2 separate regions of the Homo sapiens genome follow, and region 2 is linked to region 1. The links come from fine-mapping of genetic effects on gene expression. Tissue or cell type: skeletal muscle. Region 1 holds a variant in brackets; the other region holds the start of a gene. All regions are shown on one strand. Distances are between the middles of the regions.

Region 1 (8,105 bases):
CCATTGCACTCCAGCCTGGGCAACAGAGTGAGATTCTGTCTCAAAAAAAAAAAAAAGTTTTGTTTCTCAGACTCACCACATCATAAGGTGGATGGGCCAGCAGCAATCTGTCGCAATGCAGAAGTGGTACATTCAGGAGCAGACACAAATACAGCTAAAGTGTATAAGCTGCAGGTGGCACGAGCCCCCAGTCATCTACTGCTCTTACCTTAGCACCTCTTAGCTTATATCTATTGCCATATATGCTCTTGTGGCCAGCTAACAGAGGAGGTTGGCTCGGTGGGTGAGAAAACGCAAGCAGAAAATAGGACATAGTGAGGACCCTGAAAGACAAGGTGTTAAGAAGCAATCCTCCTAACTGGGAAGCTTTGGCAAATGCACCATCTAATTTTGGTGAATAAAAGTAGCCTGAGGTTAGGATATATTCAGAATCATGGATAGTGGTGAGTGACTGGTTGGTTGGTTAGAGGCCTTGAATGAGAAAGACTGGAAACATTGGGAATAAGGAGATCTAAGGACAAAGAATTCCAAGTGAACATATAGGAAGGGGCATGAGTATGAAGATCTTTGTATCACATGTGTATTTGTTTGCTAGGGTTGCCATAACAAAATACTATAGACTGGATGGATTAAACAATGTAAATCTATTTTCTCACAGTTCTGGAGGCCAGAAGTCCAAGGTCAAGGTGTCAGGAGGTTTGGTTTCTTCTCAGGCCTCTCTCCTTAGCTTTCGCCTTCTCACTGTATCCTCAACTCTATGCCTTTTCTCTGTGCACTCACGTCTCTGGTATCTCTGTGTGTCCAGATTTCTTCCTTATAAGGCCTCCAGTCAGATTGCATTAGGATCTTTAATCACCTACTTAAAGGCCCTTTCTCCAAATACAGTCACATTCTGAGGTAAGTGGGGTGGTTAGGACTTCAACATAAGAACTTGGAGGGGCGGGGCACAATTCAGTTCGTAACAACATGTTAAGGCATACCAGAGAGAATGCACCACATAAGAGGCACTGAACAGCCAAGTAAACAAAATGACTCAGCTAGTTGATGATAGCCTGTGTCATTAACCCCCCCAGAGCAGGCACAGTGCGCACATGAACAAAGTAGCCATACTGGCAGGAATGCAGGCTTTTTGTAGGTCCAGGGCCATGAATTCCCATTCACCACAGCTTCCCCATTTCTCCAAATTGCGTGTCAAACAGATTTCTTTACACTGGAACCAAAGTGTATGAAGGTAGCTGTTTTGCTGTATTCTTGCCGACATTTAAAATTTTTTTGATTTTGCTAAAAAAAAAAAAAGAGAGAGAGAGACAGAGTCTTGCTCTGTCGCTGAGGCTGGTGTGTACTGGCCCAATCATAACTTTCTGCAGCCTCAAATTCTGGGACTTAAGTGATCCTTCTGCCTCAGCCTCCAGAGTAGCTGTGACTACAGGCATGCACCACCATGCCCAGCTAATTTTTTAGTTTTTTGTAGAGACAGGGATCTTGCTATGTTGCCCAGGCTGGCCTCAAACTCCTGAATTCAAGTGATCCTCCCACCTTGACCTCCCAAAGCACAGGGTTACAAGCGTGAGCCATCCTACCAAGCCAATGAATGGTTTTTCATTGGATTTTAATTTGTATTTCCTTATGCTGTATATTTCTTGTGTTTATTGACCATTTGTGAATTGCTTGTTATTATCCTCTGCCCATTTTACCACTGGGTTGTTTCCTTTTTTCTTATATATTTGAAGGAGCTGGCATATTCCATACATTATCCTTCTGTTAAATGTATTTAAAAAGATCTCTCCTTGCCATTTACCTTTTAAGTCTTATGGTGTCCACCTTCATTTTTTCCCCCTTTCTTTACTCCAACCCAATTAAATTAATTATTAAAAGTTTTTCAAAAATGAAATCCTAAGTTCCTCTAATAGTTGGTACTGGACTTGCCCTCTGGTGATAAAGAATGAGAAAAGTAGACAAATTTATATGAAATACCTATTCTCAGACACTGGACAAGGAGTACAGGACTCTGTTCCCTGAGAGAAGAAAAAAGCAAGTAAGATGAGCCTAAAAACACTTTGGCTTTCTGCCTGTAGACAGTTTCTAGGCTTCTGCTCAGGGTGAGGAAATCCAAGCAGAACATAGCAGTGTTCATGGGGTGAGGAAGCAGAGATCAAGTTTGAGGAAACTAAGGCAGCTGGGATTTTGGGGGCAATTTTGCCAGAGAAGAGCTATATGAAAAAGAGGATCAGAAATGTATTGTGGTCCCACTGAGTCTGATGCCGAACACTAAGCCACATGTAAATAGAGTGAAATTCCATAACGCTGGTCAACATGCTTGTCAAAGATAAACAAATAAACTAGTTACAGTGGTAAGGACACCTATTCATCAGTAATATTCCTTTGCAATAGGGAAGAGGGTGCAGTATGAACTAAACTCAGCTTCCATTTTTAGAGGTAACTAGGCCTTATAAAGAGAGAAAGACATATGATGTTAGTTGTGGGCTTAAAAAAAACATTTAGGCCAGGTGGGGTGGCACACACCTGTAATCCCAGCATTTTGGGAGGCCAAGGCAGGTGGATCACCTGAGGTCAGGAGTTCGAGACCACCATGGCCAACATGGTGAAACCCCATCTCTACTAAAAATACAAAAATTTAGCCAGGCATGGTGGCGGGTGCCTGTAATCCCAGCTACTCAGGAGACTAAGGCAGGAGAATCGCCTGAACCTGGGAGGCAGAGGTTGCAGTGAGCCGAGATCGTGCCATTGCACTCCAGCGTGGGCAACAAGAGTGAAACTCCGTCTCAAAAAAATAAATAAATAAAAATAATCGGTTTGCCGGGCATGGTGGCTCACGCCTGTAATCCCAGCACTTTGGGAGACCGAGGCAGGTGGATCACAAGGTCAGCAGATCAAGACCCGCCTGGCCAACATAGTGAAACCCCATCTCTACTAAAAATACAAAAATTTACCTGGGCATGGTGGTAGGCACCTGTAATCCCAGCTACTCAGGAGGCTGAGGCAGAAGAATTGCTTGAACCCGCGAGGTGGAGGTTGCAGTGAGCTGCGATTGCGCCACTGCACTCCAGCCTGGGTGACAGTGCCAGACTCCGTCTCAAAAAAAAAAAAAAAAAATTGGTCAGGCGCGGTGGCTCATGCCTGTAATCCCAGCACTTTGGGAGGGTGAGGTGGGTGGATCGTTTGAGGTCAGGAGTTCAAGACTAGCTGGCCAACGTGGCAAAACCCCATCTCTACTGAAAATACAAAAATTAGCTTGGCGTGGTACACCCAGCTACTCAGGAGGCTGAGGCAGGAAAATCACTTGAACCCGGGAGGCGGAGGTTGCAGTGAGCCAAGATCA[C/T]GCCACTGCACTCCAGCCTGGGTGACACAGGAAGACTCTGTCTCAAAAATAATAATAATAATAAATTAAAAAATAAAGACAAAGACTGAGTTGTGGGATAGAACAGAGGGCGCTGAGTCAGGAAAAATTACAAAGGGTTGGTTGGTGTAAATGCCAATTAGGCCACCTTTGTCTGTTAATTGGCAATTAACGAGTTAGAATTCTATCCTCCCAGAGAGACTAGGGGACAGAGGCCCTATCCTTTCCAATGATTACATTTCAATGGAATAGCTTTCAGGTCCTTGAGAAAGACACTCCTAAATTATGGGAGATACATATATCTTTCAAAGGCACAGAGGAAGGATCCACAATTCTAAGCCCTTTTAAGTAAATGCTCTAAGAAATGGTGGTCAGGAACCTATCTGTAGGTGCTGCTTTTTTAGCTTCCTTGGGCAGACACTTTAAGCCAGCAGGTGGGGCTAGGCTAAGGTCATCCTAGGAATGCAGACATCAGGTATTAGAGATTATGTTAGTGTGTATTTAAGTCTTTTAAAAATGGGGGGGAATTTTTTTGTTTGTGGTCCTTTTTTTTTTTTTTTTAAGACGGAGTTTTGCTCTTGTTGCCCAGGCTGAAGTGCAATGGCACAATCTTGGCTCACTGCAACCTCTGCCTCCTGGGTTCAAGTGATTCTCCTGCCTCAGCCTCCCAAGTAGCTGGGATTACAGGCATGTGCCACCACGTCCAGCTAATTTTGTATTTTTAGTAGAGATGGGGTTTCTCCATGTTAGCCAGGTGTGGTGGTGCGTGCTTGTAATCCCAGCTACTCAGGAGGCTGAGGCAGGAGAATCACTTGAACTCAGGAGGCTGAGTTTGCAGTGAGCTAATATTGTGGTACTGCACTCCAGCCTGGGCAAAAGAATGAGACTCCATCTCAAAAAGAAAAAAAAGCCAGGCACGGTGGCTCACACTTGTAATCCCAGCACTTTGGGGGGCCAAGGCGGGCAGATCACAAGGTCAAGAGATCGAGACCATCCTGGCCAACATGGTGAAACCCCGTCTCTACTAAAAATACAAAAATTAGCTGGGTGTGGTGGCGTGCACCTGTAGTCCCAGCTACTTGGGAGGCTGAAGCAGGAGAATCACTTGCAGTAAGCCAAGATCGCGCCACTGCACTCCAGCCTAGTGACAGAGTGAGACTCCGTCTCAAAAAAAAAAAAAAAAAAGTCTAAAAAAACCTCTTTTACATTAAAAGAGGCTTAAGGAACATAGCACCTGGATTCTAAGATTTGAAGTGTCATCTGTGGTTGGATCCTAGTTTGGACAGAATGCATGTATAAGTAATTTTTGGTACAGTTGGAGAAATTTGAGTAGAAATTAGGAATTAAATCTTTTTGACTATGTAATTTACGAGAGTTAAGAATGTCTACAGTTATTTTAAAACACTTCAGCATAAAAAACTTGAAAGGGAAAAAAATCATTGACTAAAATCCATAGACTAACATGACTTGAACTGACTAAAATTAAAAAGAAATGTTGACTTGTTTCTAAAGCAATTACCGCTTTTCTAAAATCATTACAATGTTAAATTTAATTTTTTAGAATTATTGGTTAAAAAATTTTTAAAGAATAAAAAATAAAGTAAATGAAATTATTGGTTTAAGCTGTGTGCAGCGGCACAAGTCAGTAGTTTCAGCTACTTGGGAGGCTGAGGTGGAAGGACTGCTTGAGACAAGGAATTCAAGGCTGCAGTGTTCCATAATCATACCTGTGAAAAGCCACTACACTCTAGGCTGGGTAACATAGTGAAACCCTGTATCTAAAATAAATTAATTTTAAAAAGTAAAAGACAAGAACCAGGTAGCTACAGAGATCTAGATGGCAAAAACTATTAGATAGTCTTTTCAGAATGACACCTGGGATGAATCAGCTCCAGCCATTTTCCATCTCCATTTCACCCCCAAAAGGATTCGAATTACAGGCAACAAGGGTCTGGCTAGCCTAACTTGGGTAATATGACCACTTGGCTGGAGAAGTAGGGAATCTTGACTGACAGTTTTAGCATTAGAGTGTGCAGAAGAGGAAAGGCACTTCCCTAAAGAAAAAATCAAATTATGCTACCAGAAAAAGGAAAAATTAGATTCTAGAATAGGCAAAAAAAAAAAAAAAAATAGATTTCACAACTTCACATGTGTTTGGCATACACATACATCATTTCATTTACTCTTCATAATAACCCTATGTAGTAGGTATTAACATCTCGGAGAAAGGCTCAGAGAGGTTCTGTAACTTATCCAAGATCACAAAGCAACTTGGCAGCATAGCCAGCATTTGAACTCAGTTCAAAATCCTACTTTCAAAACCCATGCTTTTTCTGTTACACCATGTGTGTAGTAGGAAAAATAAACTAAACGAACTGTTTTCTCCTACTATACTCTTAACATAGAACACTTCTGTAACAAGATGTGTGGGGTTTTTTTCTCCTGTACACCAGGCAGTTCTCCAGTGGACACCAACTGGGTGTCATATAATTCAGTTCAATTCTGACACTATCTACATGAAGTTAGAATTAGATCCCACACCTTAAGGGCTCAGTCCCACCAGACTGCCCTGCTCCTCAGATGCCAGTTGCAAGTTTGGGCCTCCAGAACTTCTGGCTATAAATTGGGAGTTCCCATGACTCCCTCCTACTTAACTTGCTAGGGAGGCTCACAGAACTCAGGGAAACATTTTATTACATCTATCGGTTTATTACAAAGGATATTACAAAGGGTACAGATGGACAGACACATGAAGAGATACATAGGACAAGGTCTTGAAAGGTCCTGAGCACGGGTGTTTCTGTCCCTGTGGAGTTGGTATGTACCATCCTCCCAGCACATGGATGTGTTCCCCAACCCAAAAACTGTACCTTTGGTTTTGTTGTTGTTGTTGTTGTTGTTGTTTTGAGACGTAGTCTTGCTCTGTCGCCCAGGCTGCAGTGCAGTGGCATGATCTCGGCTCACTGCAACCTCCGCCTCCCGGGTTCAAGCAATTCTCCTGCCTCAGCCTCCCAAGTAGCTGGGACTGCAGGCATGCAACACCATGCTCAGCTAATTTTTGTATTTTTAGTAGGGATGGGATTCACTATGTTGGCCAGGATGGTCTCAATCTCCTAACCTCATGATCCGCCTGCCTCGGCCTCCCACAGTGCAGGGATTACAGGAGTGAGCCACCACACCCGGCCGGGATTTTTTTTCTTTTGAGATGGAGTCTTGCTCTTGTAGCACAAGCTGGAGTGCAATGGCGCGATCTCGGCTCACTGCAACCTCCGCCTCCCGGGTTCAAGTGATTCTCCTGCCTCAGCCTCCTGAGTAACTGGGATTACAGACACCTGCCACCACGCATGGCTAATTTTTTTTTTTTTTTTTGAGACGGAGTCTCGCTCTGTTGCCCAAGCTGGAGTGCAGTGGTGCAATCTTGGCTCACTGCAACCTCCACCTCTCGGGTTCAAGTGATTCTCCTGCCTCACCCTCCTGAGTAACTGGGACTACAGACTCACACCACCACACCCAGCTAATTTTATTTTTCTGTTTTTTGCTATTTTTAGTAGAGACAGGGTTTAGTAGCGATATGTTGTCCAGGCTAGTCTAGAACTCCTGACCTCAAGTGATCTGCCCACCTTGGCCTCCCAAAGTGTTGGGATTACAGGCGTGAGCCACTGTGCCTGGCCATGACTGATTATTAATGCCATTTCCAGCCCTCTCTCCTCTCCAGAAAATGGGAGGTAAGGGTAAAAGTTCCAAGCTTCAAATTATGACTTGGTCTTTCTGGTGGTTAGCCCCCATCCAGGAGCTCACAGAGTTGCTTCAGCACAAAATGTACTTCTATCAACTGAAATTACAAGAGACTTAGGAGCTCTGTATCAGAAGCTCCAATCTCTCAGAAAATTATACAGTTCTTAGAAGCTCTGTGTCAGACAGGAACCATGGTCAAAGACCAATTTGCATATTTCTTATTATTTTACACCATGCCATTAGGCAAGGCAGACAATTACATTTCTTCTATTCTTCAGTTTCCCAATCAGTAGAAAGAAGTAACAACTTGCTCTGGGTCTCCTGAGTAGCTTGGATCTCATAGCTAACTAACAGGTTTGCAGAGCAGCCAGAGCTCCCTTGGAAGTGACTTCCTATTTCCTTAATTTTTCTGACATTGATTAGAAGGGGAAAAAAAGGAAAAAAAATGAAATGCATAATATTAACGACTTTTAAAATACTTCTTTTGTTCCAAGCGTAGTATTTTATATGTCTCTGTGCATTGAATTCTCTTAATAGTTCTGTAAGGAACACAACATTATTAACCCCAATTTGCAACGAAGGAAACACGTTTAGAGAGTGGAAGTTATTACTCAGGATCACTGGCTTTCAACCCAAGTCGGTCTGACTCCAAAACTGGGTGCTCCAAACAACAGCACCCCACTACCCACTCTCCTGACCTTTTTGCCACTGAGGCCCAAAGATGCCTTCCCTTCTTGATGAGAGAAGGGGTAGTCTCAGTCTCCTCACCTACATAATAAAGGAGTCAGAATCACTTCTCCCCCAAGGCCCCTTTACCTCTGACTGCTGCTGCTACTGGCAAGGCCAAGAGCTGAGTTCTGTGCTGATCACAGAGAAGAGCAAGGCCTCACTGAATTCATGGACTTTATGTCCCAACGGGAGCTCTCAACTGAGGTACATGACTTACTCCGGCAAAGAAGGGGCACTCTGGATGTCTGCAGATAAGGAGGTGGGCTGCAGATCAGGCAGAGAA
Region 2 (8,105 bases), 170 kb before region 1:
CAAATGCACCTTTCCCTGGACATCTGCCACTCCATTCTTGCAGAGACGAAGCTGCTGAGTCATTTTGTTATTTTTGCTATTGGCTGAGGGAGGAAACAGGAGATTTTACCTGTAATGGCATAAATATTGGCTTCTAGGATAAGGCCAAAGTCAGACAAGGTTGGGACAAAAATCATTCTTAGTGAAGGGGATTTGTTAAGCAGCCTATTAGTGCCATCTGCTGTACAATTCTAGAAAGCTAACTCGGGGAATTTGTCTGTTGTGCGTATCCCATGCGACAGACAGTGTGAAGGATTGACAGATAGATATGAAGCTGAATACTACCAAGCACCAACTTCCTAGAGATTTACAGGCTAGTGAAAGTGGAAGACATTCCAACAGACAAGTTACAGTGTGTTTTGTGCAACGTAAGATGGAAAGGCAGCAAAGAAGCATCTTTAGGTTAACAAGGTACCCCATAAGGATTCTGATGGGTCACTAGTTTACCAGGCAGAAGGGAGGCGGATGCAAGGCACTGCCAGCAAAGGGAGGAGTGTGGGCAACACCCTCAAGCACAAAATGACATCTCATTGGTAAACAGCTTAGTTTATATTCTGTAGGCAATGAAGCCTCTGACTGGTTTTAGGCAAGGGTATAATTTGGTCAGACTGACATTTTACAAAGATATTCTAGCTGCAAGCAAGCTGGGGAACGAATTAGGACAGATTGGAGGCAGAGAGATTAACCAGTTACAAGTCTATTGCAACAGACCAGTTAACAAATGATTCCAGTTAGATCAAGGCAGAGGCTGTGAGAAAGGAAAGGAAGGGATGAATCTGAGAGATATTTCAAAGTAAAATGGACAATAGTGATATTTCATTGTCTAAGGGACAGAGAGATGTTTCATAAGCCAAGGGAAAGAGAAAGGCTTTGGTTTGAGTGCCTGGGTGGAGGAGGGGGTGCAAGTGAAGCATTTGTTTGGGACAAGTTGAATTTGAAGTGCTATAGTCTATCCATAAGATAAATGAACAGATGGGTCTAAAGTTCAGTGATCATCTCATCCTATCTCTTCATTTCCCAAGGTGGGAATTTACTTTTTTAAAATTATTTTTATTAAAACAATTTTTTTCTCCTCCCTTCTCTACCAAGACCACGGTGAAAATTTTCTATTAGAGCAAGATATTGCTCCTACCATAGGTACCTCTGCAGCTCACATTCCCTCCAATTTAGGTAAGTCAAGCTGTCCAACCTGCCCCTGCATCTGTCTGGTATTCCAAGCATTTTCATCCTCCTTTAGTCAGAAACACAGAAAAGCATGGCTGTCTATGCAGTCAGAAAGGCCTAGCTATTGAAGTTAATAGAGCAAGATACTTAGAGCAAGATACTTAACTTCCTCATTTGTAAAATGAAGTTAACACCTACTTTGCATGGTTGTTGTGGAGTTTATAAATGACATATATAGAGGGTCTGACATTATCAGAGGTACTAAATATATGAGTTACTGTTACCCGTGTGTCATAAAAGATCATCAAAAAGCTTCTCTGTTTTAAAGAAATGACTTTTCATCTTGTCTGTTAAACTGCTCAACACTGTTCACCACAGTATATATATTCCTTATAAGGTCCCACAGCATAAATTCCTTTTAATATAGAAACTAGAAAAATAATTTATCTTTTGAAGAATGGATTTGTTTCCTTATTAGTAAGAATTACCTTTTTTCCCTTAACTGACTAATTTTGGGCAAAATTGGGTACTCAGTTACAAAAAGTACACCAACGCACTGACTAGTGTATTTGCCTGTTCTTATTATAAGAATAATAGCTACCTTTTTTTTTTTGAGACGGAGTCTCCCTCTGTCGCCCAGGCTGGAGTGCAGTGGTGCGATCTCTGCTCTCTGCAAACTCCGCCTCCCGGGTTCGTGCCATTCTCCTGCCTCAGCCTCCCGAGTAGCTGGGACCACAGGCGCCCGCCACCACGCCCGGCTAATTTTTTGTGTTTTTAGTAGAGACGGGGTTTCACCGTGTCAGCCAGGATGGTCTCGATCTCCTGACCTCGTGATCCGCCCGCCTCGGCCTCCCAAAGGGCTAGGATTACAGGCGTGAGCCACCGCGCCCGGCCGCTACCATTTTTTAAGAAGTTACTACTCGCCAGGCGTTGTGTCAAGTGCTTTACCTTCATTATTTCACTTAATCTTCACAACAACCCGCTGAGGCATTACTGCCATTTTTCAGAAGAGTAGAAAGGGAACTATAGCTCAGAGATGTCTGGGTAAGTGACTCAAATGTAGGTCTGCCTGACTCCTAACATCAATGATCTTAACCTTAACTCTATAATAGCGTTTTACATTTGACAATTTGATTGCATTCAGTTTTTTTTTGTTTTGTTTTGTTTTTGAGACGGAGTCTCGCTCTGTCGCCCAGGCTGGAGTGCAGTGGCGCGACCTCCGCTCACTGCAAGCTCCGCCTCCTGGGTTCATGCCATTCTCCTGCCTCAGCCTCCCGAGTAGCAGGGACTATACGTGCCCGCCACGACGCCTGGCTAACTTTTGTATTTTGTTTAGTAGAGACGGGGTTTCACCGTGTTAGCCAGGATGGTCTCGATCTCCTGACCTCGTGATCCGCCCGCCTTGGCCTCCCAAAATGCTGGGATTACAGGCGTGAGCCACCGCACCCGGCCTGCATTGTTTACGCTGTCCCTTTTTTGTTTGTTTGTTTAAGGCGGTGGGGCTCTTGTTCGACTTTCTTTACTTCTGCTATAACTGCCACGATATTATCCATTCAATAACTGAAGCAATTAGAAAACATAAAATCTCTTTTGGAAAGCAGGCGGGGTTTAATGGGTAGCAACAAGTGAAACTGAGGCCCAGGGAGGGGAAGGTTCGGCGCCTGGGCCTCTGGGCCCTAAACCTGGACCTCTCCCGCCTCTGGGATTTGGACGACCCACCCTATCCCCACTCCGACGGGGACAAGCAAGGCTCAGAGTCAGGGAACCTCCCTTCTCCCGGTGCAGACAGGAAAACTGAGGTCCTGAGAGCGGATGGGACCTGGCCTGCCCACACCTCACTGCCAACTTAGAGGAGGGCGCATCCCTCTCGGGCCCTGCAGCGACCAGAGGTTTGCCAGAGGCAGATTCCCATCGCTCCAAGGCTCATTTCCTCCACTGAGAACTAAAATCAAGTGGGCCCTTAAGGGTACTCACCCGAAGCAGAAGGAGGTAGGAGGCGGACCTTGGACGGAAACTGAAGTACACCGGCCAATCAGAAGAGCCTGGTTACGCTTGGGCCCATCAATAGAATTCGGCAGAAGGATCTTCGACCCGCCTCAAAGGTGCGCGTCTCACACTGAAACGTCGCGAGATCTTCCCTCAAGCGGAACGATTGGCTGAAGGTCGGAAATTGAGAGTTACGCCCACGGTTTCTTCAGACCTCTGATTGGTCTTCCAGAGGAGAAGTCAACGAACGTCAACCGATTCCTTGGATGCCCATTGGTGGGCGGTGCGGGACTGGCGACGCGCGGGCCACAGCGCGGGCGTTCGAACTGGCGCTTGGCGGCGTTGCCATGGAGATGCGGCCTGGCCGCCGCCGGTGGCTCCCGGGTTGACGGGACTGTTAGGTTGCGGGCTTTGGGGCTCACTCCCGACGGCATTGTCTTCTCCTCTTCTCAGACAGGGCAGACCGAGGAGTTTGGACCGAGGTGAGAAAGGGCGGGGAGAATAGAGGAGGGGTAGGTCTGGTCCGGAACCGTGGCGCCTGCCCGCGGACACGGGTGCGCGTGACGTCGGCTGAGCGCGGGAGGAAACTGGCAGTTGTGAGGGAACCGAGAGTTGGCCCCTCTTGGCTCTTCCTAAAGTTCACCTACTTTCCTATCTTTCATCCCCATATCTCTGCCTTTTCTTCAGCAATTATCTTGAACGCCACTTCTCTCACTTTGGGAGACTAAACTCTTGAGTCCCAAAGCCTTCTTGCTTTTGAACCGATAAGCCTGACCGGCACCTCTTTTAGGGCATTTCTATTCGCCCTTGGGTTGTTTACTTCCGGGAAGCCCGTTCGCTTCCCTTTTCCCATAAAATTTTGAAGCCTTTGAGGTAAGGCAAGCATCGTTCACAATGTCTTGCACATAGTAGATTTTCAGGAAATATTTGTTGAGTTGAATTTAATTTACAAGAAATAGATTGGATTCCTCTTCATGCCCTGCCTTGTTGTCTCTCTGCTTCAGAGACGATTTTTTATTTCGAGGCTAGGGGGAGGCCACCCTAATCTTCAATGCAAAAGGACCTAAAAGTCCACACACAGTCCACAGCTGGCCTTTCTACTCTTTGTGAAAGGCTAAACTTTTTTGGATTGGTTGCTGCAACTCTTCCTGCATCTGTGGCTTTTAGCCTTGGTCTCCCAATAATTTTATTAGACTCCTTTTAGTCTTTGCTTAAAATAAACCATTCTGTTGCTGTATGCCAAGATAATTTATCTCCCTTTAGCTTCTTAGTGACCGGCAGCTATTGTCACATTTTAAGTGTGCTTTGGAAAATGTTTTAAAGCATCTTCTTTGTACTTGTATTCTACAAGTAGAGAGGCTTTGTAGTCTCTCTATTGAAGTGCATATAACAGCTGCTCAGGTGAACTCCATCTATTCATCAGGTGTCTATGATAGAATTGCGTTCCTAAGACTGTTTCGTTGTTAACTCATGGATTATATATTCACAGCCTGATTGTTGGTGTGATTGCTCCTTATATCAAATTCATAGCTCACTGGTGGCCTTAATAAAAGGAGTGAAAAAGTTCAGTACAGCAGCTATGTTCTTGTTACCCTTTTATAAAAGTTTGAAACACTACCTTATAGCTGTGACATGTAGTGGAAACCCACTACATGTGGGTTTGGCTTTGGCTCTGTCTCTGTCTCTAATTCACTGTGGGTGGCTTTGCAAGTCATTTAGTCCCTTTATTATTATTATTATTTTTTTTTTATTAGAGAAAATGTCTTGCTCTGTCACCCAGGCTGTAGTGCACTAGCATGATAATAGCTCACCGCAGCCTTGAACGCCTGAATCTAGCCCCTTTAGACCTCATTTTTTCCATCTGGAAAATCAAAGAATTGAATTAGATTAAAATTCCTGTGGCTCTACTCTCAAGTCAAGTAGTTGATGTCAGGTAGACCACACACTCTCAGCCTTCCAAAGACCATACAGACTTTTTTTTTAGCTGCTGAAAGTAGTAGTTACCATTTATTGAGTGTTCACCCCGTACAAAGCACTGTATCCAGGGCTTTATATGCATATTACATTTTTCTTAGTGTAGCACATTACTGCTAAGATAGCATTTTATTTAAAATTTGTGGTTTTATATTGTTAATGAAAATCTTTAGTTATTCAGAGTGTGTCCTTGGGGCAACCTAAGGTATGAGCCTCTCAGTTTTTAGTTTAGGGAGAACCACAGTTTCTTTCTCTGGGCTGCTCTTTTGTCGTAAAGTGAGGGGCTGAACTCTTCTAGATCCCTTCCAGATCTAGTATTCTATGATGCCTGATATATTAATCCAGTTTCCCTATGCTGGCTCAGCAAACCAGTTTATAATTTGCACAGTGTAGATCCTCAACACATTTTGTTAAATAAATAATAGAGTTCTACTTCTTAAACCTTGAGTGTATGGTCATTGTATACCTCCCAAGTTACTGTCTCAAGGGTTTTGATGTTCATATCGTGTTGAATAAGAAGAGTTTTCTGTAGGTATAAACTAATAATAATAGTATAATATATTGTTGAGTGTTTATATATCAGACACTGAATGTAGCAGTTAATTTACATTATTCTAATTAACCCTCATGAAAGGAAACATTTTTTCCAAGTCAGCATTTTTTTTTGTCAGTTCAGTGCAGTAGCTTCCTAAATGATCTCCCTGTTTCCACTTTTGCCCACCTGCTGTGATCCATTTCCTCACAGAACTGGGAGAGTGAACTTTGAAGACGAATCATAGCATATACTTTCTCCACTTAAGATCCTCTAATGACTTCCTACTTCACTTAAAAGTAAAATTCAGACACTTTTATGTGGCCCAGTACACCCTACATAATCTGGCCCCTACCTTTCTCTCCTCTTCTCATACTATTCTCCTTCTCACCTACTATGCCAGCCAACCTGTCCGTGTTTGATGGCTTGATTTTGCCATGCTCATTTCCACCTTTGGGCTAATGTGCTCACGTGGAACCCTCTTCCTCCTGATTTTTACATAAGTGACTCCATGTTATTTCAGGTTTCACCTCAAATATTCCCTTCTGAATGAAGCCTTCTCTGATCATCCAATGTAAAGTAAGCCCTGCACTGGGCTTTATTCTTCGGTAGTGATTATCATCATCTAAAACTACCGCTTATTGATTATTAATTATCTCTTCCCATTAAAATAATAGTGTCATGAGGGCAGGGACCTTATCTGTTTTTTGGGGGGTTTTCTTGAGACAGGCTCTTACTCTGTCGCCCTGTTGCCCACACTGAACTGCAGTGGTGTGATCATGGCTCACTGTAGCCTCTGACTCCCAGGCCCAAGCAATCCTCCCACCTCAGCCCCCCAAGTAGCTGGGACCACAGGCATGTACCACCATGCCCAGCTAATTTTGTTTATTTGTAGAGACAAGGCCTCACTATGTTGTCCAGGCTCATCTCAAACTCCTGGGCTCAAGCAATCCTCCCTCAGCCTCCTAAAGTGTTGGGATAACAGGCATGAGCCACTGTGCCTGGCTGACCTTGTCTGTTTTGTTCACTTATATTCCTGGTGCATAAAACAGGGCCTATCTCATACAAGTCTCTCAAAAAATATTTCTTGAAGATTGGATAAAGTTTCCTCTTGGAACTGTAACCATATCTGTGTCCATATCAATTCATTTGAGTAATACAAACTTGCATAATTTTGGTGTCCAGGAGCAGTGACTCAGGGCACCAGCATCTCTGTCACAATTTTCCTGAGTAATCAAATTACCCTGATAAATAGTTTCTACCACCCGTTACCACAAACGATATCAAATGCTTTTATAGAGTTTTAATATACTGTAGGGATATTTATTCATTAAACAATTATTGAATATTATTTCCAATCACTCTTTTATTTATTTATTTATATTTTTTTCTGAGATAGTCTTACTCTGTTGCCCAGGCTGGAGTGCAGTGGCGCAATCTTGGCTCACTGCAACCTCTTCCTCCCAGGTTCCAGCGATTCTCATGTCAGCCTCCTGAGTAGCTGGGATTACAAAGTGTGTGCCAACATTCCCAGCTAATTTCTGTATTTTTTGTGGAGATGGGGTTTCACCATGTTGACCAGGCTGGTCTCGAACTTTTGGCCTCAAGTGATCCACCCACCTCAGCCTCCCAAAGTTCTGGGATTACAGGCATGAGCCACCGTGCCTGGCCCCAGGCACTGTTTTAGAACCTGGGTATAAAAAGACTAATAAGACATATTGCTTTTTTTTTTTTTTTGAGACGAAGTCTCACCCTACTGCCCAGGCTGGAGTGCAGTGGTGTCATCATGGTTCACTGCAGCCTCAACCTCCTGGGCTCAAGTGATCCTCCCATCTCAGCCTCCCAAGTAGCTGGGACCACAGGTGTGTGCCACCATGCCCAATTAATTTTTATTTATTTACTTATTTATAGAGATGGGTTCTCCATATGTTGCCCAGGCTGGTCTTAAACTCCTGGGCTCAAGTGATCTTTCTGCCTCAGCCTCCCAAAGTGCTGGGATTACAGGTGTGAGCCACTCTGCCTGGGCAAGACACATTCCTTGACCACAAAGAAATTATACTCTATTAGGGGAAATAGACATAATCAAATAATTATCATATAATAATTATTAATATAATTAACTGTAATAATAGAGATATGCAAAAGGTATGATGCAGACACGGAAGGGACATCTGATCACATTGGGGGAGACCAGAAAAGACCTCATTTGTTGTTATAATCAGTAAGAGGTAGACAGGTAAAGGGAAGTTTGATGATAGTGGAGGAGGCCACTTAAGAGCACAATGTGAATGAATGCACAGAGAAATAAAACGGTCTAAGAAGTTGACTAAACTGTAGAGTGAGGAAGGGGCTAGATTACAGAAGGATTTGTGGGTCATGCTTAGGAGTTTGGACTTTGTACTATGTGTAG

The links. PIP is the estimated chance that this variant, and not a neighbour inherited with it, causes the effect.
Region 2: it holds the start of KIF24, and the variant in region 1 is fine-mapped to the expression of KIF24 in skeletal muscle (GTEx, PIP 0.90).

Annotation. Positions count from the first base shown.
Region 1 is chr9:34,151,476-34,159,580 of GRCh38, reverse strand. No RefSeq gene overlaps it. Among named protein-coding and RNA genes, the nearest start is that of UBAP1, 24 kb to the left of the region's middle. The variant C/T (reference allele first, on the strand shown) is at 3,341.
Region 2 is chr9:34,324,672-34,332,776 of GRCh38, reverse strand. It overlaps KIF24 (kinesin family member 24), which reads left to right and starts at 3,509. Exons shown (of 13, transcript NM_194313.4): 1 at 3,509-3,671. It overlaps NUDT2 (nudix hydrolase 2), which reads right to left and starts at 3,208. Exons shown (of 5, transcript NM_001161.5): 1 at 3,178-3,208. RefSeq lists enhancers at 3,263-3,452, 2,988-3,495, 3,583-3,682, 3,783-3,842.